4 linked regions of the Homo sapiens genome follow. The protein of the gene in region 3 purifies or fractionates together with the protein of the main gene of each other region. This does not show direct contact. Each region holds a gene or a part of one and is shown on either strand. Other genes may lie near its edges.

Evidence for each region.
Region 1: the proteins of AACS (region 3) and SPSB4 purify together in Homo sapiens (co-immunoprecipitation; one large-scale study listed by IntAct). This does not show direct contact.
Region 2: the proteins of AACS (region 3) and DNAJC17 fractionate together in Homo sapiens (co-fractionation; one large-scale study listed by BioGRID). This does not show direct contact.
Region 4: the proteins of AACS (region 3) and ADISSP fractionate together in Homo sapiens (co-fractionation; one large-scale study listed by BioGRID). This does not show direct contact.

The regions. Positions count from the first base shown.
Region 1 is NC_000003.12:141,057,118-141,062,695, forward strand, and holds part of SPSB4 (SPRY domain-containing SOCS box protein 4), read left to right. Parts: intron 1-5,578. UniProt on the Homo sapiens protein: Substrate recognition component of a SCF-like ECS (Elongin BC-CUL2/5-SOCS-box protein) E3 ubiquitin-protein ligase complex which mediates the ubiquitination and subsequent proteasomal degradation of target proteins.
Region 2 is NC_000015.10:40,778,562-40,784,139, forward strand, and holds part of DNAJC17 (dnaJ homolog subfamily C member 17), read right to left. Parts: intron 1,437-5,578; coding exon 1,367-1,436; intron 1,043-1,366; coding exon 984-1,042; intron 750-983; coding exon 662-749; intron 1-661. UniProt on the Homo sapiens protein: May negatively affect PAX8-induced thyroglobulin/TG transcription.
Region 3 is NC_000012.12:125,137,726-125,142,494, reverse strand, and holds part of AACS (acetoacetyl-CoA synthetase), read right to left. Parts: exon of another isoform or gene 1,567-4,769; intron 404-1,566; coding exon 266-403; 3' UTR 1-265.
Region 4 is NC_000020.11:3,759,771-3,765,348, forward strand, and holds part of ADISSP (adipose-secreted signaling protein), read right to left. Parts: intron 417-5,578; 5' UTR 331-416; coding exon 312-330; coding exon of another isoform or gene 237-311; intron 1-236. UniProt on the Homo sapiens protein: Adipocyte-secreted protein (adipokine) that acts as a key regulator for white adipose tissue (WAT) thermogenesis and glucose homeostasis at least in part through activation of protein kinase A (PKA).

The sequences.
Region 1 (5,578 bases), on a different chromosome or scaffold from region 3:
CTCTTTGTGAGCTCTTGGGGAAGAAAGGGCTTGCCCAGCCAGTTGTAGCCTGAGCTCCATGTGTGTATAGCAGGGAAAAGCTAATGAATGCCTATGAACAAAACCTTGGGGGTTCTTTAGTTCATTCATTGTTGGTGGGTTCATTCTGAATGAGCATCTTTAATAAAACAGCCTCCCTACTTAATATTTGCACAAGAAAAATCTTAAAAACATTCCAGTTAAACTAAGGTCAGGCACCTATCATTGGTACCTTTGCACAGAGTCAAAAATTGAAAAATAAAGACATGAAATAAATAGTCTGAGCTCACAGTGCTCTGCATTCCCAGTTCATTCTTAAGTGTTGGTTCTTTCTAAGGCAGTGTATTGCTTTTCTTCATTTGTTCGTGCTCGTGCATTCCATAGACGTTCACCCACCACTTTCTCTAAGCCAGGTCCATGGGGACTCTGATGAGGGACACCCGGCCCCTGCTCCCAAGTTGCCCCAGTCCGATGGGAGGGAGGCAGCCAAAGAGACATCATGTCCCCTTGTGATAAGAGCTGTGGTGGGCACAAGTACAAGGGCTCTGAGAGCACAGGGGGCTGGGGAGCTCCCCAGAGGCACTAATATCTAATATCCTGAAAGCCTCAGAGAACCTGTCGAGGATTTTGAGCAGGAGCGTGATTAGATCAACTGTGTACTTTTACAAGTGCAGTAGTATATATTTGAAAGTAATATGCAGTCTATAAAGGAATTCCAGTGGTATCTAACTGGATTTCTTTTTACAGTCTTTGTCATTATTCAGATCTCTCGTGGAGTCTGACCCCTTTGGTGTAGGCTGTCTCCCTAAGGGAAAGTGGTTGAGTCTTATGCTTTTCAGCAGCCTGAGATCCCCAGGGCAGGCATCATTACTGCTGGCTAGATGAAAGAAGGAGACTTGCCCCCACCTCTGGCTCCAGCAAGTCCAAAGCCAGAGGCCACACAGAGAGAAGGGCATTTCACGCAGTCACTACCAATCCCCACAGCAGTCATGTCTTCTTGCAGACCCCGTGCCTATTGAGCTCAGCTAGACAGGCCTCTGTGGCTGTGATTTTGGGTCCCAGGCCTCTGAAGACTGTGCATCATATTTTTCAAACTAATGAGGTTCCTTAAACAGTGTGGCATTGCCACTTCATGTCTCCTCATTTCCCTGTCGGGTAGGAACATCTGCTAGGGTCCTGGGAAAGGCAATTAGCAAATTAGAGTTTTTGTTTTCTTGCTCAGCCATGATTGAAGCCCCAGAGCAGATCCTTCTGGATAATGTCATTAAGCATCCCCATCCAAGCATGACGTAGGAAATTAAGTTTGGTTTTGGGGAAAAGTGACGGAGGCATCCTTTGGCGTTCTTCAGGATGCTGGCTGCTTACTGGGTTGAGAGATGATGGTATTCCTGTCAGGAAGATGGATCCTGTTGTATGTCCCATGTGCCTGGCCCAGTGCTGCATGCTGTAGTGGAGATGAGGAGAGGAGAAATGTGCTAAGTGCCCACTCCCTCTGGCTGGAGAGAGAAGGCAGGGATGAGCCCGACTTGGCCACTGCTGTGTCCCTTGCTCTCAGCTGCACAGTGCCTGGCACTGTGTTCACTAAGCATTTTTTGAACGAATAAATGAGGGTTGGAAGCAGGGAAGGATGCAAAGCAGTAGCTAATAAAGGAGTAGACTGGATACAGCCAAGAGTCAGCTGCTCAGGAGTGAGAGTCCAACTATGATAGTGGCATTACTGGGCTTCATGTCCCCATATCCTGACTTTAGCCCTGGCCCTTTCTCTGCTTCATCCTCTGAAAAACAGCAGAGCATGAGCCCTCCCTGAAGCCCAGCACAACCTCTCCACAGTCCATATGTGTGTTCTGCCCCATGTTCAAAGTACCAGGCTTGTGTCTTGCATGGAGGGAGTAGTGCAGTGGCTGGGGGCACAGAAGTGCTGGTGAAAGTTTCCTGCCATCAGAGGAATGCCCTCAAGGTAGAAAAAAGCAGATCAGTAAGGCCTGAAAGATGTCCCCCTGGCTGGCTCAAGGGTGGACAGAGGTACAGGGCAGGCCCCAGGAGGCCTACTGGATCAGGGCAGGCTTCCTAGAGGAGGTGGAGCTCACCCTCATGGACTAATTATCTCTCAAAGGCTCCACCTCCAAATACTATCACACTGGGGCTTTGTGTTAGGCCATTTTTGCATTGCTATAAAGAAATACCTAAGACTGAGTAATTTATAATGAAAAGAAGTTTAGTTGGCTCACGGTTCTGCAGGCTTTACAGGAAGCACGGTGCTGGCATCTGCTTGGCTTCTAGAGAGGCCTCAGGAAGCTTACAGTCATGGCAGAAGGTGAAGGAGGAGAAGGCATGTCACATGGTGAAAACAAGAGCAAGAGGCGGGGGTGGGGAGGTGTCACACACTTTTAAATGAGCAGATATCTCTCCAGAACTCAGTCACTATCCCTAAGACAGCACCAAGCCATGACAGACTCACCCCCATGACCCAGACAGCTCCCACCAGGCCTCACCTCCAGCACTGAGGATTACAACTCAACATGAGATTTGAGCAGGGACAAATATCCAACCTATATTAGGCTTCAACATGTGAATTTGGGGAGGACACAATCAGTTCATAGCCAGGCACATTCAAGTGGTGAAATGGCAATGTTGGAACACATCCACAATTTAAAAGAGCACTCACCACTTACTGGAAGCCCTGTGATGTGCCAGACTTTACAGGTGTCTGCTCTGATACTTGCAAAAGCAGGTGAGGTTAGCACATAGTTAGCAGCACTTCCAACCAGTCTCAGAGAGATTAAGTTCTGGCCTAGGGTCCAACAGACAGGTGGGGATTCACATCTAGGTCTCCTGTCCTTCATTAGATTGCCCAGCTGCTAGTTTCCCTTAACGGCTTATCATTCATGGACATGAGCACTCTGCTGTGCGCCCTGTACTGGGGGAGCAGCAAAGGGGCTGTCTATTTACTTGCCCACCTTGTCACACCACAGTGTGAGCACTCTTCAGGATCTCTGCCTGCCTCTAGTAGGGACAGAGACTTTGAGACTATGATTGCAAAGGAGAGCACTGGGCCCTCAATGACCCAGTATGGGCCAAGCCAAGTACTAGTAAGAGGTCTTCCCTGGGGCTGCTGTTTGGCTGTTGCTTTCAAACATGTTTAAGTGTCTTTTCAGCAACAGCAACTCCACAGTTGGCATGGTTGTGTGCAAGGATAAAGCAGTTTCCCTTAGAAATTTTCTGTGTGGGCCACACAGAGCTGGTTACAGTCATTGCTGTGGAGAGGGCATTATTCTAAACAACATGGAGGAAGAAGTAAGAGCACAGGCTTGTCATATGGTAACTCTGGGGTTGATCCCAGTCCTGCCACTTCCTGGCTGTGTGACCCCAGGTTATGCAAGTTATGCAACCTCTCTGAGCCCGGGCTGCTATTGCAAAGAGTGCTGCGTATGTATGCAGTATGTATGCATGTGCTGTGTACATAGGTAGTTTTGTGCATTTGAGAACATATCTGAATAAATGCTGGAAGTAGAATTGCTAGGTCAAAGGGTCTGTATATTTGCAATTCTGAAAGATGGTGTTAATTTGCCATTTGCCGAGGCTAAACCAGTTTATATCCACTTTAGCAATGTATGAGTCTGTCTTCTGTTCCACACATTCTCCAAGCATGCGTTATCCATTTTTTTGACCTTTAATAAGCTGATAGACAAAAATGGCATTTCAATGGAGTTCTAACTCATTTCTTTTTCAGTATACATTGAGTATCTTTTCAAAGGAACCATTTGTTTTTGTGTAAACTGTTGATATCTTTTCATATTTTGTACTTGTATTCATTTGTAGGAGTTTGACATATATTTGTTGGTAATTTGTGTTGCAAATTTTTTCTTATGTTAAAACAAGTCTAACTTCTTTTACAAGTGCTTTCAGCTACACCGTTTTGTTATTTCCCATTTTCATTTCTTGTTTTACATATTTCTGTCTTCTCCCCCATTAAATGATTATATGGTTTATGTTTTATGTGTTTTTAAAAATTTAGTTACTTATGCATTTAAAGTATATTTAGTGATATGTGAAAATGCAAATTACATAATTTTTAGGTGAAATAATCTAAATAAAGGCCCATTATACCAATTTTTAAAAAGAAAATTCATTATAATTTATAGACCAAAAAAAAAGAGAGAATAAAGCAAAATTCCTCCAAAAGCTGACAATGTTTATATCTGGTTAATGAGATAGGAGAAAGAGGTGAATTCTAGTTTTTGTCCTTTTTTTGTATTCTCTAAAATTTAGACATTTATTTAACCTTTTCTAATTAATGAGCTTTATTTCTTCAGAATAGTTTTAGATTTAAAGAAAAACTAAACAGATAGTACAGAGAGGTCCCATATGCTCACTCCATTTATCACCCTAGTTTCCCCAATTATTAGCATCTTACATTAGTATGGCACATTTATCACAACTAATGAACCAGTATTGATACATTATTATTAACTTATTTTAATAATTAATATTAATAATTGTTATTAACATATTTTTTCAGATTTCCTTTTTTTCTCAGATTTCAGTTTTTACCTAATATCCTTTTTCTTCTCTTTCTTTCTTTTTCTTTCCTTTTCTTTCTTTCTTTTTTTTTTTTTTTGAGATGGAGTCTCCCTCTGTCACCCAAGCTGGAGTGCAGTGGCACGATCTTGGCTTACTGCAACCTCCACCTCCTGGGTTAAAGCAGTCCTCCCACCTCAGCCTCCAAAGTAGCTGGGACTACAGGCGTGTGCCGCCACACCTGGCTAATTTTATTTTTTTAGTAGAGACAGCATTTCACCATGTTGGCCAGGCTAGTCTTGAACTCTTGACCTCAAATGATCCACCTGCCTTGGCCTCCCAAAGTTCTGGGATTACAGGTGTGAGCCACCAAGCCCAGCCCCTAATATCCTTTTTCTGTTCCAGATCCCATCCAGGATACCACATTATGTGGAATTGTTAGGTCTCCTTAGGGCCCTCTTCACTATGATGGTTTCTCAGACTTTGGTTCCGATGACCTTGCCGGTTAGGTCAGGTATTTTGTGGGATGGCCTCCAGATGGAATTTGTCCTTTGTTTTTCTCATGATTAGAGTGAGGTTATGGGTTTTGGGGAAGACACCCAAAGGAAGATTTCATTATATCATATCAAGGGTACACACTATCAACATGATAGATTAATATAATAGTAATATAATAATATAACATAATATAATATGATACATTACATGATTAGCTTTAATAGTTTATATGTTTTATTGATTTTGTTTTGTTTTTGTGGTAGTTTTTCCCAAAGAACCATCTCTTTAGTTTTTGCTTAGTTCTATTATTTCCCTATTTTATTATGCTCCATTCATTTTTTAAAATTTAATAGCATAAATATATCAGCCATGATTTCCTCTGAGAACTGCTGTAGAGGCACCCCGCAGGTTCTAGTATGTGGAATGCTTTTTGTTATTGTTGTATTCCAGATATTCTGCAATTTCTATATGGATTTCTTTTTTGATCTGAGTTGGGGTCAAGTTGTTTAAAGAATTTTTTAAAATGCCTAAGTGATAGGATTTT
Region 2 (5,578 bases), on a different chromosome or scaffold from region 3:
TTTTACTCACACTGGATAAGTTTAAATCCCACCTCCAGCAAGCTCTTAAACTTTTGGTGCCTTAGCTCCTTTGCCTATAAAAAATGGCTTCAGAGGCCAGGTGCGGCAGCTCACCAGCTGTAATACCAGCACTTTGGGAGACTGAGGTGGATAGCTTGAGGCCAGGAGTTTAAGACCAGCCTGGCCAACATGGTGAAACTCCATCTCTAAAAAAACGGAACAAAATTAGCCGGGCGTAGTGGTGCATGCCTGTAGTCCCACTATCGTGAGGCTGAGGCACAAGAATCGCCTGAACCCAGAGGGTGGGGGTTGCAGTGAGCCGAGATCATGCCACTGCGCTCCAGCCTAGGTGACAGGGTGAGACCCTGTCTCAAAAAACCATGTTCTTAAAAAAGGTTTAGTACCCACACTTCCTTGTATAGTTATGATAATTAAAGGGACAATAAGGCATTTGTCACAATGCTTAGCTAATATTAAACCTTATTATTGTTATTATTCCTAAGAGTGTCTTTAGGAACCAACCTCTAAGAACAGCGTTTTGCCCAGAGCCTGAGCCAAAAGGCTTTGAGATGAGTTGCTGGAAGTGAAGCTTCAGGTGAGGGAGATGAATGAAAATGACCACAGGAAACCACAGGCCACCGAGCACTATGATGGCACCTACCAAGCTTCACTTTCTTCCTTTTCTCATCAAGTTTCTGGGTCCTCTCTGCTGCTTGCTTCTTGGCTTTCCTGACCTTGTCATATGCAGCCTGGCAGGAGAAAGGGGCACAGGGCAGAGGGTCAGTGAGAGAGTAAAGACAGAGCCCCGGCAATCTGCCTGGCCCCTAGCCCACGAGCCATCAGAGTGGCAGCCTGGTGACTGGGTCTCCTGGGCTTAGACAGCAAGGACTGTGCCACATGGCAAAGGGCAGAGGACCGAGGTTGAGAGGCAGCAGTGGTCTCTAACCATGGGGGACGATTCCGATGAAGGAGGCTGTGCTTACCCTGGCTGCAGCATCGGTCAGCACCTCCAAGGCCTGAGAAAGCTGGTGGAAGAGTTCAGCTAAACATAAGGATCAAAAAGACAGAAGAAAAATAAAGTTAAGACTTCGTAATGGTGTGCTCCCTCAAAAAAAAAAAAAATCTTCAAAGAAGTCACAGGATGGCAGACAAGCCGACATCAGCAGATGACAGACCAACAAGGAGGGGTGAGCATATCAGCAACTGACCAGACACCCCTCACAGGAGGGAAGCCCTGGGACCCATTGCCTGGAGCCAGGCAATGTGTGCTTACACCCCACAGCACTCACATGCAGAGCTTACATCGGGAAACACAATGCCCGGGTGAGTGGGTTTCTTTCTCCCCACGCCCTGAGAAGAGTCTCACCTGCTCTGGGATTATCTGGATTTTTGTCTGGGTGGCAGGAGAGGGCCTTCTGCCTATACGCCTTCTTTACCTGGAAGAGTCAGACAGAAGACATGGCCATTCACTCTCATCCCAGGGACAAACAGGAAAACCTTGCTCAATGGGTAAGGGGAATCCCATGCACACCTAAAAGAGAAGCTGCTGGCGCCCACTTCCTAGCCACCAGGGAGACTGGCAATGGAGGAGGCCAAGGCCATGGAGGGAGTGAGCCACTGTCGCCCAGCACAGGAGCTGGGCCCACCTCCTGCTAAGTGCTCAACCTCACCACTGCAGATGTCCAGGGGCTGCTGCAACAGGCAGGAGCACAGTACCCCGCTTTCTCGACAGCCACTCGAAGACAGGTACTCTACACATTCTTGGTGGGCATATAAACTGGGGCAACCTATCTGGAAGAAAATTCAGCCATCAAAATTTAAAATGTTCTTTCCCTTTGACCCAAGTCCTAGGAATCTGGACTTGTAGAAGTATGGCAAAAATAAATATACAAGGATGCTCTCTACAACACTGTTGATACTAGCCAGCCAAGATCCCCATCAACGGGGAGACTCATTTAAAAGATTATGATTGGCCGGTGCGGTGGCTCACGCCTGTCATCCCAGCACTTTGGGAGGCTGAGGTGGACAGATCACCTGAGGTCAGGAGTTTGAGACCAGCCTCACTAACATAGTGAAACTCCATCTCTACTAAATATACAAAAATTAGCTAGGCATAGTGGCGGGCAGCTGTAATCCCAGCTACTTGGGAGGCTGAGGCAGGAGAATCGCTTGAACCGAGGAGGCGGAGGTTGCAGTGAGCCGAAATCGCACCACTACACTCCGGCCTGGCGACAGAGCAAGACTCTGTCTCAAATAAAATAAAATAAAATAAAATAAAAAATAAAATAAAAGATTATGATTGAGGCCGGACATGGTGGCTCACGCCTGTAATCACAGCACTTTGGGAGGCTGAGGCGGGTGGATCACTTGAGGTCAGGAGTAGGAGACCAGCCTGGCCAACATGGCGAAACCCCATCTCTACTAAAAATACAAAAATTAGCTGGGTGTGATGACATATTCCCCTGTAATCCCCCTACTTGGGAGGCTGAGGCATGAGAATCGCTTGATTCATGCAGGAGGCAGAGGTTGCAGTGAGCCAAGATTGTGCCACTACACTCCAGCCTGTGGGACAAGAGCGAGACTCCATCTCAGAAAAAAAAAAAAAAAAAAAAAGATTATGATTGGCCAGACATGGTGTAATCCTGTAATCCTGGCATGTAATCCTGTAATCCTCATGCCTGTAATCCTGGCACTTTGGGAGGCTGAGGTGGGCAGATCACTTGAGGTCAGGAGTTCGAGACCAGCCTCGCCAACAAAGCAAAACCCTGTCTCTATTAAAAATACAAAAATTAGCCGGGCATGGTGGCGTGCACCTGTAGACCCAGCTACTTGGGAGGCTGAGGCAGGAGAATCACTTGAGCCCCAGAGGCGGAGGTTGCAGTGAGCCGAGATCATGCCATTGTACTCTAGCCTGAGTGACAGAGGGAGACCTTGTCTCAAAAAAATAATAAAAAATAAATTTCAAAAAGTTTGTTCAGGAATTTGCCACGCTTATTAAAATTTTTTTTAAATAAAATATTATAGTAGACAGAGGTATCCATGTTCTGACATAGATCTTATTATAAACTTTTGAGTTTAGTCCAGGTGCGGTGGCTCAAGCCTGTAATCCCAGCACTTTGGGAGGCCGAGACAGGTGGATCACGAGGTCAGGAGATTGAGACCATCCCGGCTAACACGGTGAAACCCCGTCTCTACTAAAAATACAAAAAAATTAGCCAGGCATGGTGGCGGGCGCCTGTAGTCCCAGCTACTCGAGAGGCTGAGGCAGGAGAATCGCTTGAACCTGGGAGGCAGAGGTTGCAGTGAGCCGAGATCACACCATTGCACTGCAGCCTGGGAGACAGAATGAGACTCTGTCTCAAAAAAAAAAAATTTTTTTTTGTCAGGTGTGGTGGTGCATGCCTGTAGTCCCAGCTACTCAGGCGGTTGAGGCGAGAGGATCGCTTGAGCCCAGGAGTTCCAGCCAAGCCTGGGCAACATGGCAAGACCTCATCTCTACAAAAATTTTTTAAACATGAGCCAGGTGTGGTAGCATGTGCCTTTGTCCCCCTACTCAGGAGGCTGAGGTGGGAGGATCACTGGAGCCCGGGAGGTTGAAGCTGTAGTGAGCATGTTCACACCACTGCATTTCAGCCTAGGTGACAGAGTGAGACCTTGTCTCAAAAATAAAAATAAAAAAATTTTAAATTAAATTAAAATAAAATAAAAAATTAGCCAGGCATAGTGGTGCGTGCCTGCAGTACCAGCTACTAAGGAGGTTGAGGAGGGAGGATCACCTCAGCCAAGGATTTTGAGGCTGCCGTGAGCTATGATGATGCCACTGCACTCCAGCCTGGGTGACAGAGCAAGACTCTCTCTTAAATACATAGAAAGAAAGAAACCCCAATATTTCTTACATAAGTAAAAATAAACACAGCTACCAAGATTCTCTTTCGTGTGCTACCTAATAGCTGTTGTAAGTGAAGACAGTGTACACAACCCCAGAATCCGTCCTCTGCCTCCAAGGCCTTTGCTTTCTCCCTTCTGCTTGGTGTGTGTTACCTGCTGCTCAAACCTCCTGGAGGAAGAGCTAAGCAGATTGGATTTCTAAGCTTCCAAGATGGACGCAAGAAACGCTTCTACACCCAAGTGTGCTAAATAAGGACTTTCAGAGGTAAGCAGCCAGCATCCACAAGGTGAGCACCTGCTGGGCAACTCCTCCATCCATGAGGCAGCCACCGGGCCCAGGACCTCTAGGGGTGTGCTGCCACCTGCTGGGCCATAGCCAGGGCACCTGCCATGGCAGCCCAAGCTGTTTGGTTCTCCTGACTGCCTTGGAGGCAGCAGGAACCACCCAGGACAGGCGCTGGGCAGAGAGGGTGTAGACGTGCCACCTGCCTTCCCAATCGCCCACCGAAGCACATCTGCCCTGCCTGCTCACCTCCCACCCTAACCCTCCCTGCCTAGCTCTGTTTTCACTACAAAAAAGAACAATATTAAGGGAAAGGAGGTGCTAGCTTAAGACAGTGTCATCTTTGCAATATATCATCTTTACTTTTTAGGTCCCTTATCATTCGTCTTTTCTTTCTTTTGCTCTCTTTGCCTGCTTTATTGTGCCTCCAGCCTCATTCCTTTACTGAACATATTTTATATTTCAGGGCCCCTGTTTGCTTTTTTTCAATAAGTAAAACAATACCAAAAACATTATAAAGATGTTCTTTCTCAATCTCCCCAGCCCTCTGACATCAAGGTTCATTAACACATATAAAAGCACCTACACACACTGACAGGAGTCTGTTGGGTGTTTGTTCCTGGCCTCTGGGCCCCTCCTCTCTGATCCTATCTCCACCCTCTCTCTGGGATGGGTGAGAGGAAGGGAGGGGGAGGCGGTCCATGTCCCAGTATCTATGGCATCACCTGCAACACTACCTTCAAGATGAACTTCCTCAGGACTAGGACTAGTAGGCTTGCCCCAGGGATGTAGGGGGGTTTTGTGGAAGATGTTTTCTTTTGTATCATGGGGCTCTTTTAAAGTGGTTTAGGCTGGGCATGGTGGCTCACACCTCTAATCCCATCGCTGTGGGAGGCCGAGGTGGGTGGATCACTTGAGGTCTGGAGTTTGAGACCAGCCTGGCCAACATGGTGAAACTTGTATCTACTAAAAATATAAAAATTAGCCGGGTGTGGTGGTGCATGCTTGTAATCTCAGCTATGGGGGAAGCTGAGGCAGAAGAATCACTTGATTCCGGGGGGCAGAGGCTTCAGTGAGCTGAGATCGTGTCACTGTACCCCAGCCTGGGTGACAGAGTAAGGCTCTGTCTCAAAAAAATAAAATAAAAGTTTGTATGTTCCTTGTTATAAATCTGAGAGGGGGAGTAGAAGTGAGTGTGAAGAAGAAGGAGCAGGCTGGGTGTGGTGGCTCACGCCTGTAATCCCAGCATTTTGGGAGGCTGAGGCGGGCGAATCAGTTGAGGTCAGGAATTCGAGACCAGCCTGGCCAACGTGGTAAAACCCCGTCTCTACCAAAAATACAAAAATTAGCTGGGCGTGGTGGCACACGCCTGTAGTCCCAGCTACTAGGGAGGCTGAGGCAGGAACC
Region 3 (4,769 bases):
TGCAAAGACACACACTCTCACCACAGTGCCACACCTGCGGCCCAGACACTCCCTCCTGGTCTCTGAAGGCCAGAATCCCACTCGTGTGGAAGATCCAGGTACCCACCAGATTTAACAAAACAGAGAAACGATCCCTCCCCAAGCCTACAGAACACTTGGTGCGAGCATCCTTTTACAACAGCTGTAGGTTTCTGTATAATTTCTTGAGCACACAAAAGTTACAGTGCACACGGGTGCGGCTGAGTGACACGCCAGCCAGTCTGACTCAGAAGCCCTGCAGCTCAGGGATGTCCCGGTACAGATCCAGGGTCTCGGGGTTCGAGAAAGCACCTCCTTGCTCCACGGCTTTTCCAGCGATGATCTGTTTGACGGCAACTTCCACTTTCTTGCCGTTGAGCGTATACTGCGAGGGAAAGGTAGAAAAACAGGAACATTTAAACCTGAAGGGGGGAAAATCCGCAGCCCTGGATATATCCAGGCCCCAAAGGCCCAGCTCCACCTGGAGTGCCAAGAGTGAATGGGTCTCGGCTCTAAGATGCCCCTCTTCCCACCAGGTCTGCAAACGTGCACCGAAGTACGGTGAACTGACCACTGTCTCTCTGTTTGGGGGATAAAACCTGTTCTTCTGAAAGGCACTTTCAAGGACTGGTGCTGAAACTCAACTCTAACACTCTCCACACCCCACCCCCGCCCCCTGGCACGGCTGTTGAGAAACTGAGGCTATTTCAAAGTTGCCCAGAGGTCACCATGAGCATGTTCATTTTTCTTTTTTTCTTTTTTTTTCTTTTTTTTTTTTTTGAGACAGAGTCGCACTCTGTCACCCAGGCTGGAGTGCAGTGGTGCAATCTCCGCTTACTGCAAGCTCCCCCTCCCAGGTTCACACCATTCTCCTACCTCAGCCTCCTGAGTAGCTGGGACCATAGGCACCTGCCACCACGCCCAGCTAATTTTTTGTATTTTTAGTAGAGATGGGGTTTCACCAGGATGGTCTCATGTTAGCCAGGATGGTCTTGATCTCCTGACCTCATGATCCACCCATCTTGGCCTCCCAAAGTGCTAGGATCACAGGCGTGAGCCACCGCGCCCAGCCGAGCATGTTCATTTTTCTAACGCTGCACACTCTACTGGGCCCCGTTGGGACCCACGACACGTGTCACATCCAAGCTGGCCTCGAGAGGGCCCTCCAGACACCCCACTGACCCCGGCAGTGCATATTCCAGATGGGAATATAAAAAAGAGTATCTCTCAGGGTTCAGGGTCAGCCTGACCAGGATAAAAATGCAGGCATAGACCATTCCTAAATCCCAGCAGACACCCTGGGCAAGAAAGTTTTCAGGGAAGATGTGGCTCCTGCCACCCCATCTGGGGGATGCTGGGTAAATTCCTGAACCTGAGTTCACTTCCTCGAATGAAAGTAGGGGTGCCAGCACCTAGGCTATAAGGCTGTGAGTCACTGGGTGAATGAATCAGTGCACACACAGCTTCAGAAGTGCCTAGCTACTATGTTTTATGATGATTTTACTTTTATTTATACTTTTTTACTTCTCTATATATTTTATCACGTTATTCTATGATAAAGACCATTACTTTATTGATATTGCCATTACTTCAGAAGTGGCCCAGCTTCCTAGAACTAGAGGCAAGAGTGTCCCCAAGCTCCCATGAACTCCTCCTCAGAGCCAGCCATCTGCACGGGACGGTGTGTTACTTCTTCTCACAGTCGGGCCCTTTCCAAACATTCAGAGCTCCAAGATTTATGGCACATGTGTTTCACCTTGAATCCAGAAGAGCCCTTGGCAGTGTTGGTGTGTTGTGGGCTAGGAAACTTCAGGAGCAACAGAGCCCAGTGACGAGTCCTCGATCACTGGCGCCTTTTTTTTTTTTTAACCTGAGATGTAATTAAAATTCATTCACTTGAAAATTCAGTCGACGTGTGAACTAATTAAGGATCTAAGCACCGGCTTCCAAGGGCCTGCCTGTCACTTCATGTGATGTCGCCGGCCCTCCCGCTGTGAGATGCAAACGTCTCGCCTGCTCTGTGCCCTGCTACGCTTCACACAGGGGTCCACGTGCAGCTCACGGGAGCTAATACCGCCACCTTCCACCCGCTGGCAAAATACAGCAGCATCCTCTTAAAAGAAATCCTGCTACCATTTCCTCTGGGGAGAGGGGAAAAGGTAGAGGAAAGGGAAAGAGAAAGGAAGAAGCCACCGCCCCCCTGCCCACCCCCACACCAGCTCCTGCATGAGGCGTCCCCAAGTAGACAGGAGCCCAGCAGCCTCCTGTCAGGAAGGGCCAGACATCCCAGCCATGACCCGAGCAAAGGCCCGCTGGACTTGGGACAGCCATGGCTGCCTGAGGGCTGCAGTCGGGAAGCCCTCAAATGCCAGGAGTCCATTCCACTTGGCCATGACCCTCGCGGGGTCCCCAGGTCTTTATTCTGGGTGAGCAGAAGGCAGAGCTGACTATGGACACCCCTTCCTTGGGCAAGACCCCTCATCTCTCTGGGTTTCCTCATAAGAGGAAGTAAGATGGGTGTGAGGAAGACAAGTTTGTCCCGCCTCACCAGGGTCACAGGACCAGCTCCCCACCCCCCATTCACTCACCAGACACCAAAAGCATCTGCTGTTTGCCAGGCAGTCAGCTGAGCTCCGAAGAAAAGGAGGTAGACCCACAAGGTTCCTGTCCTCAAGAGGCCTCCACTCCACCAGAAAGATGTGCACATACACAAGAACTCACCCTCAGCACCCCCATGGTAAACACTGTCAAAGCTAAAGATGGAGGCCAGGACACTGTTCAAACAGGAAATGCAGGGAAAGCCTCTCTGACTTTTGCACAGAGAGCAACTGAGATCAGGTGTGTGGAAGGGCTTTGCACAGCATGCGCACCTACTCCGAATGAAGGCTGACGGTGAGTGGAGGCAGCACAGAAACAGAGGCACGGGGACTGCGTTCTGGGCACCCTGTGGCCCACGGCACCCACCAGAGAGGCTCTGTTGTCAACTCATCTTAGAGATGGGGAAACTGAGGCTTGGATGCTGCGTTGCCCAAAGTCATGCCTCAGGGGCAGAGGGGGGGCCAGAGCTAAGTGACAGAGCCCCTGTGCATAAAGACCCTCAGAGAACCCGCTGTGAAGGCTGGCGGCAAGGACTACGCCGGCCAGAGCCTCCCCAGTCCCCCGGGGCCGCTCACTCCAATGGTGCCGCATCACCACCCTGAGCTGTGGCGGGTGAGTGAGGGGCTCCTCTCCTCGTGTCACAGATCAGAGATGGGATGAGTCTTACTCAACACAAGGAGTGTGGCTGGCTCTGGGCCCAGATCTCTCCTGAGCCCTCACCAGGAACCCCCTAAATGCTGAAAATGGCACTGGCTTCCCAGGGAACAGAAGCGGCAGTGTCTCTCCACACAGAGACAGAGATGCGCCCCGGGCTCAGGCTGTTCTCGGGGTGGTGAGGGGTGGGTAGCCCACTCCCTACAAGCAACATGTGAAGGGTCAGACCTGCAACAGGCTCTCCTGCCTCAGCAAGGCCCCGGGACTTTGCAGATGAGACCTCAGTTGTCCTCTTCTGACCCTGAAGTGGGTCCAGTTCCTGAATGGGCAGGCTGGGGCCACGCCGTGTCACCTCCCTGTGGAGGCTGGACCCCTCCCTAGCTCAGCAATAAAAGAGGTAAATCCTCTCCTAAGCCTGCCGTGAGGGCTCGAAAATGTAAGGGCATTCAAAAATCTGGAAGAACCCTCCAAATAACTTCCCGAATGCACCCAGGAGGAGACCTTATCTGGGGAGAGAAAGAGCCCAGAGCCCAGCTGGGTGCCCTGGACGCAAGCCCACAAAAGCCAGGACAACCAGGGAAAGAAAGGTGCTGAGTTTTCCCCCTTCATAATAAATTGTTCCACTACTCTCGTGATCAAATATGGTTTGGTAACAACTGTTTTGGCAGCAAAAGACCTAAGTTCTTTTTCAATAATATAAAGCCAAGGGGATAAATGCAAATTCCAGTTCCCTAAAATGTTCCAGATAAGACAGCACTGATTCACTGAAGGAAAACCTTAGACCCTCATCAGAAAAAGACAATAAGGGTCACTGATTCAAGAAGTACCTTCTTGGAGAGCATCAGTGTCCCCACAGAGAGCCGCCAAGAGTCACCAACCAAAAATAAGGGAAAAAGAAAGAGATGGATGGAAAGCCCCAAGCTGCAGGGCTCTTCCCATGCAGAACCAGAACACAAAGGAAACGTGTGGACACCACAAAAAGCAACCAACACCGCAGATGCGGGCAGGCGCCGGGAGGAGGAGGGACAGGGGTCCCGAGTGGGAGTCAGCGCAGATGTGGACAGGCGCCGGGAGGAGGAGGAACAGGGTCCCGAGTAGGAGTCAGTCTTCCAGGGATGATCAGGGATTGCACACCGTTGTCGTGCTGCAAGCGCTCTCCCCAGCCCCCACTCCTGGACAGGTTGTTTTGAAGATGTTGAAATAACTTTTAAGGCAAAGAGAATGATCTACGGGTTTCAAAGTAAACGGCATCAGATATTTCAACATTCTCCAGGAAGCAGACTCTCCTGGTAAATCCTGTCTCTAGTTACACCTCACAGAATCAGCCCTGCTCCCGGGCAACATCAAAGTCAGCTTCCCCTGGGAACCCAGTGAGTGTGTGCTCCCATCTTCTCCTTAACGAATAGCCATTCCATAGGCTTCAAATACAGCCTGCCACTGTCTAAATTGTTGTATACATTCACATACACACACACACTCACACACACACAGCAGCTTCT
Region 4 (5,578 bases), on a different chromosome or scaffold from region 3:
GCTCACCATAAGCCCCTCGGCTCCCCCAACCCCCACAGTGGAACGGCAGGGACACAAGAGCACACACCTCCACAGACCAGCCTAAGGAGTCAGCAGGGCTCTGCAGGGGTCCTGCTAGGGCTTGCGTGAGCCCCAGAACCTGGCACAAACACTGACATAGTCCCAATCACATTCGCACACCAGCACACACGCACTCACACATGCACACACACACACACAGGTGGTGCGGGCCCTACCTGCAGCAATGGCCCTCCTACCAGGGCCCACCGGAAGAGCTTGTGCAAGTCCTACCACGCCAGGAAGGCACTTACCCTTGTTGGCTGCAGCCATGGACGCCCTCCCTGCCACGCAGCTCCTGCCAGACACCGCCACTCACGCTCAGCAGCCTCCCATGCTCCAGGGACACCAGCGGGAGCCTGAAGGATAGGGAGTGGGGAGGGCAGGGGTCAGGGCCACTCATGGACCCATGGCTCAGGGACACCAGAGGAGCTCCCTTTAGGAAGGACTCAAACCCCTACCGCTCTCAGCAGCCCAAGTGGTGCCTGTACTCTCTAGCACGGGGGCTTCTGCCCACCCTCTACCGACTGCCCACATTCACCAAGAGCCCTCACCCCTTCCTGATACCCCAGTGACTCAGGGTCCTGCCAGCATGTGCTGAGCTGCAGCTTCTAGGTGCCAAAGCAACAGCATAGGACTCCTATCCCCAGCACCCCCAGAGACTGGCAGGAGGGGCAGCCTGGAAAGGAGGACTTTATTGGTATTTTCCAGGGACCAGTTCTGGTGCTGCTGACCCCAAAGGCTGGGCCTGGAGCTACCTTATTCAGGTCACACAAGCAATGCAGCTGGGTGCGGTCAGAGGCAACAGGGTGCTCGATGGTGGGCAAGAACAGGGGACCACATAAAGTAAGCGTGCCCTTAGAGCTTTCCCTCCTGGTGATCGGTCAGGGCCATATGCAAAACAGATGCCTGTGGAGGGGGTGTGCCCCCACCTGAACCCCATTCAGACCCTGCCCTGAGTCTCAGGCCTGCCTCCGCCTCAGCTCCCCAACGGCAGCCTCAGCACAGGGGCAGTGAGAGGCGCCCCAGGAAGCCTCCAATGGGCCGAGCTGGGACCATCTGAGCATCAAAAAGAATAATGAGTGCAACTGATGGAAACAGATGGAACACATAAAAGCAGTGCATTCACAGAGATTATTAGAAAAGAAGAGAGAAAGCAAAACAAACAAACCCAAGCCCTCAAAAGCCCTCATTTGTCACCACTGACGGTAGCAGTGCCCTCTTTACTCTGAAAGCTGAGGATTAAAGAGGAAGAATTCAGCCTGTCTCTTGGCCTTTCTTGTAACCAAATTGCCCTGGTGGTTGATGGAAAGCTCTTCTTTCGGAAAGAATTCTTGCTAATAAATAACAAAGAAATGACCAAATGCTAAGTCATTCTGCAACCCCTAAAGGAACAAATGCTGGAGGCAACAAGAACCAGTGGATGCTAAACCAGAGGGGAAGGTTGACAGGAAGCAGATACTCACAGGCGCCCAAGCGTCACTGACAGAGGACCTGGTATGGTTTTTGTTTTTTTTTTTTTTCTGAGACGGAGTTTCACTCTTGTCACCCAGGCTGGGATGCAATGGCACGATCTCGGCTAACTGCAACATCTGCCTCCTGGGTTCGAGCGACTCTCCCACCTCAGCATCCCGAGTAGCTGGGACTACAGGCGCCCGCCACCACGCCTAGCTAATTTTTGTATTTTTAGTAGAGACAGGGTTTCACCATGTTGGCCAGGCTGGTCTCGAACTCCTGACCTCAAGCAATCCGCTCACTTCGGCCTCCCAAAGTGTTGGGATTACAGGTGTGAGCCACCATGCCTGGCCGAGGACCTGGTGTTTAAGAGGAATGGCACAAGTTTGCAATGGAGGTATGTGACTTCTCCCAGTCACACACTGGTCTATCTCTCTACTCTCTGCAGGACAGCCTGTCACACTGATGCCTCCTGAAGTAAGGCAGCCCAAAGTCACAGCATCACTGACAAGGGATTCCTGCCAAAAAGGTTTAACCTGGAATCTAAACCAGCCTCTAACTTCAACTTCTCATTTGCTAAAAACACAGAGGAGAGGGGAACAAATTTAATGACTCCATGAGAAAGCAATGAGACGAGCCCAGAAGGCAGGATATTCTACAGGATGACTGACCTGTTTTTTGTTTTTGTTTTTGTTTTCAAATGTCAAGAAGAAAAAGAAAGCAGGCTGGGAACGGTGGCTCACGCCTGTAATCCCAGCACTTTCACGGATCACAAGGTAAGGAGTTCAAGACCAGCCTGGCCAACATAGTGAAACCCAGTCTCTACCAAAAGTACAAAGATTAGCCGGGTGTGGTGGCGGGCAGCTGTAGTCCCAGCTAGTTGGGAGGTTGAGGCAGGAGAATCACTTGAATCCGGAAGGCGGAGGTTGCAGTGAGCCAAGATCGCGCCACGGCACTTCAGCCTGGGTGACACAGCGAGACTCTGTCTCAAGAAAAAAAAAAAAGAAAGAAGAAAAATAAAACGAGGGAGATTATTCTAGATAGGAAAGCAGCAAACTACAGCTGATTACACAGCTGATGGTAAGGTTGCTGCCTGTTGTGTTTTTGTTTTTGTTTTTGAGACAGGGTCTCACTCTGTCCAGCCCAGGCTGGAGTCCAGCTCACTGCCACCGTAATCTCCCAGGCTCAAGCAATCCTCCCACCCCAGCCTGCCAAGTAGCTGAGACCACAGCCACGCACCACCATGCCCGGCTAATTTTTGTAGAGACAGAGTTGCCCAGGCTGGTCTCAAACTCCGGAGCTTAAGCGATCCACCCACCTCAGCCTCCCAAAGTGCTGGGATTACAGACGTGAGCCGCCAGGCCTGGCAAATAAATTTTTGCAAATAAAGTTTTACTAATAGAACACTACACTTCATTCACTTACATGTTGTCTGTTTTTGCACTAAAACAAAGTTACTTCCAAGTAGTTATGATAGAGACCATATGGCCTGCAAAGTCTAAACCATTTATTATTTGGCCCTTCAGAGCAAAAGTTTGCCAACCCTTGTTCTAGATCAACACACACTTAACAGACCAAAAAAGGATAATCTTCAGGACAACTGACCTGTTTTTTTCACCACATCAGCTGCAAGAAGAAAAATAAAGGAGAGGGTGTTTCGAACTACCTATCAAAGAAGACATTTTGGGGGGTGCCGGGCGCTGCGGCTCACACCTGTAATCCCAGCACTTTGGGAAGCCAAGGCGGGTAGATCACCTGAGGTCAGGAGTTTGGGACCAGCCTGGCCAACATGGCGAAACCCCATCTCTACTAAAAATACAAAAATCAGCTAGGCATGGTGGTGTGCACCTGTAATCCCAGCTACTCAGGAGGCTGAGGCAGGAGAATCGCTTGAACCTGGGAGGCGGAGGTTGCAGTGAGCCAAGATCCCGCCACTGCACTCCAGCCTGGGTGACAGAGCGAGACTCTGTCTCAAAAAAAAAAAAAAAAAAAAGGCCGGGTGAGGTGGCTCACGCCTGTAATCACAGCACTGTGGGAGGCTGAGGCGGGCGGATCACCTGAGGTCGGGAGTTCAAGACCAGCCTGGCCAACATGGAGAAACCCTGTCTCTACTAAAAAATACAAAATTAGCCAGGCGTGGTGGCGCATGCCTGTAATCCAGCTACTCGGGAGGCTGAGGCAGGAGAATCGCTTGAACCCAGGAGGCGGAGGTTGCGGTGAGCCGAGATTGCGCCACTGCACTCTAGCCTGGGCAAAAGGAGCAAAACTCCGTCTCAAAAAAAAAAAAAAAAAGACATTTGGGGGATCTGGAAAATGTAAATGGCCTGGATATGAGGTAACACTAAGAAATGAGTTGATCATGGAATTGTATTATGTAAAGAATTATGTCCTTATTTTGTCAGGGAAACATACTGAACAACTTAGAGATGAGTGACACTGGCTCATCAGTCCAGGGACAGAAGAGGAACTACAGGGTGGCCTCATAGTTTAGGGCTGGGCCTGTGGAGGGCATGATCTCAAGGTCCCTCTGGTGCCAAGCTGCTCTGGGAGCAGATGTGGCCTCACCTCGCTCCCCACTTCTCAATGTGGGCAAAGTCCACCCAGGCCCAAGCCCTGCCTCATGGGCAGGGTGTTCACAGTTTGGGTACCACCAGGAGCCCCCTTTGGCCAATGGACCAGGCCAGCAACCCCCTCTTGGAGGTGAGCTTCCAGGCCCCAGCCCAGGGTGCAGGAAGTGGAGCTACACCCATTCACCTCTGGCCAGGGCCACTGTGGGGTCAGTTGCCTCAGCCCTGGAAAGCTCAGCTTGTCCCCAGGGAACTTGGTCTTGGAGAGCAGCCTGCCGTAACCGCCCCCCGACTACAGCTGCCCCCAAAGCTGTGAACTCAGAGTATATGACAAATGGCCAAGCACAAGAGTGTGAGGCCCTCCTATCCTGCAGAGGCTGCTCCAGCCACACCTCTGCAGCCAGGAGGCAGTGACAGCCCAGTGTCCTCAAGGTCCCCCCATCTCCCAGGATGCTTCCTGAAGGCTCTGGTTAAACTGCACCAGTGGCTGGTGAGCAAAGGCTGCAGGCCCTTTTCACAAAACACTCTGAACTGGTCCATGCAGGGCACCCTCCCTGTCTTCCTCCCAACCTACTGCCTGACCGTCCCCCCGCCCTGCCTTTGCCCAGGTCATCCCTTCAGCCAGGAACAATCCCGTCCCTCCCAGCCACACCTTCGACAGGGTCTCAGCCCCAACATTTCTTTTTTAAGGATGCACACCCTGCAAATCCCAGGACAGGACTACAGCTCTTTTTGGAATCCCCTTTCTCATGTCTGGGATCATTTGATATCCCTCTTCCTCACCTTACAAGGGTAGTGACTGTGTTTTTGTCAAACCCTGTGTCCCCGGCACTCAGCGCAGCACCAGACAGGGAGGAGCTGTGTTTGGTTTATGTTTGTTGAATGAATGACCACATCACATTTGCTTGGAGGGCCTGGCCAAGGCCCGTACTTCAGCCCTAAATGATATGGTCAGGGCCAGTGACTGCACTGGGGGCTCTGAGGAAGCAGAACTCCCCACCCCACTCTTTTGCCTCACCCCTGCCCTGGGGGGCACTTCCCTCTCCCTGGCCCCCACCAAGTGGCCTCCCACTGGGACTCCTCAGGCCTTGCTGCAGTCAGCTGGTTACCTGTCCATGCCTGCTTTGAGAGGGACATGCCCCATGCCCACTGAGGGTAGGACCCACATCTCATGCAGTGCCAGTACTCAGTAAAGGGCAAACACTGAGGGCCTGTAACCCTCTGGATAGTGACAACATAGAGGCAGGAAGCAAGGGACTTCAGGAACCCAAAGGAAACTGGGAAAACCAAACCTCCTTTCTCAATGGAGAACCTGCTGGTCGCTGTCCTCGGGGAGCTAGACTCTTGTGCACACACAATTCCTCATCAGAAACAGGCAAAGAGGGCACTGGGCCTCCCCTGCTGCAGCTGTGTCCACAGAGAACAGCTAGGCCACCACACAACCCCAAGCCTGGCCCTGCCTCCAGCCTCCTCCTGTGCCAACCAAGGCCTCACCATGG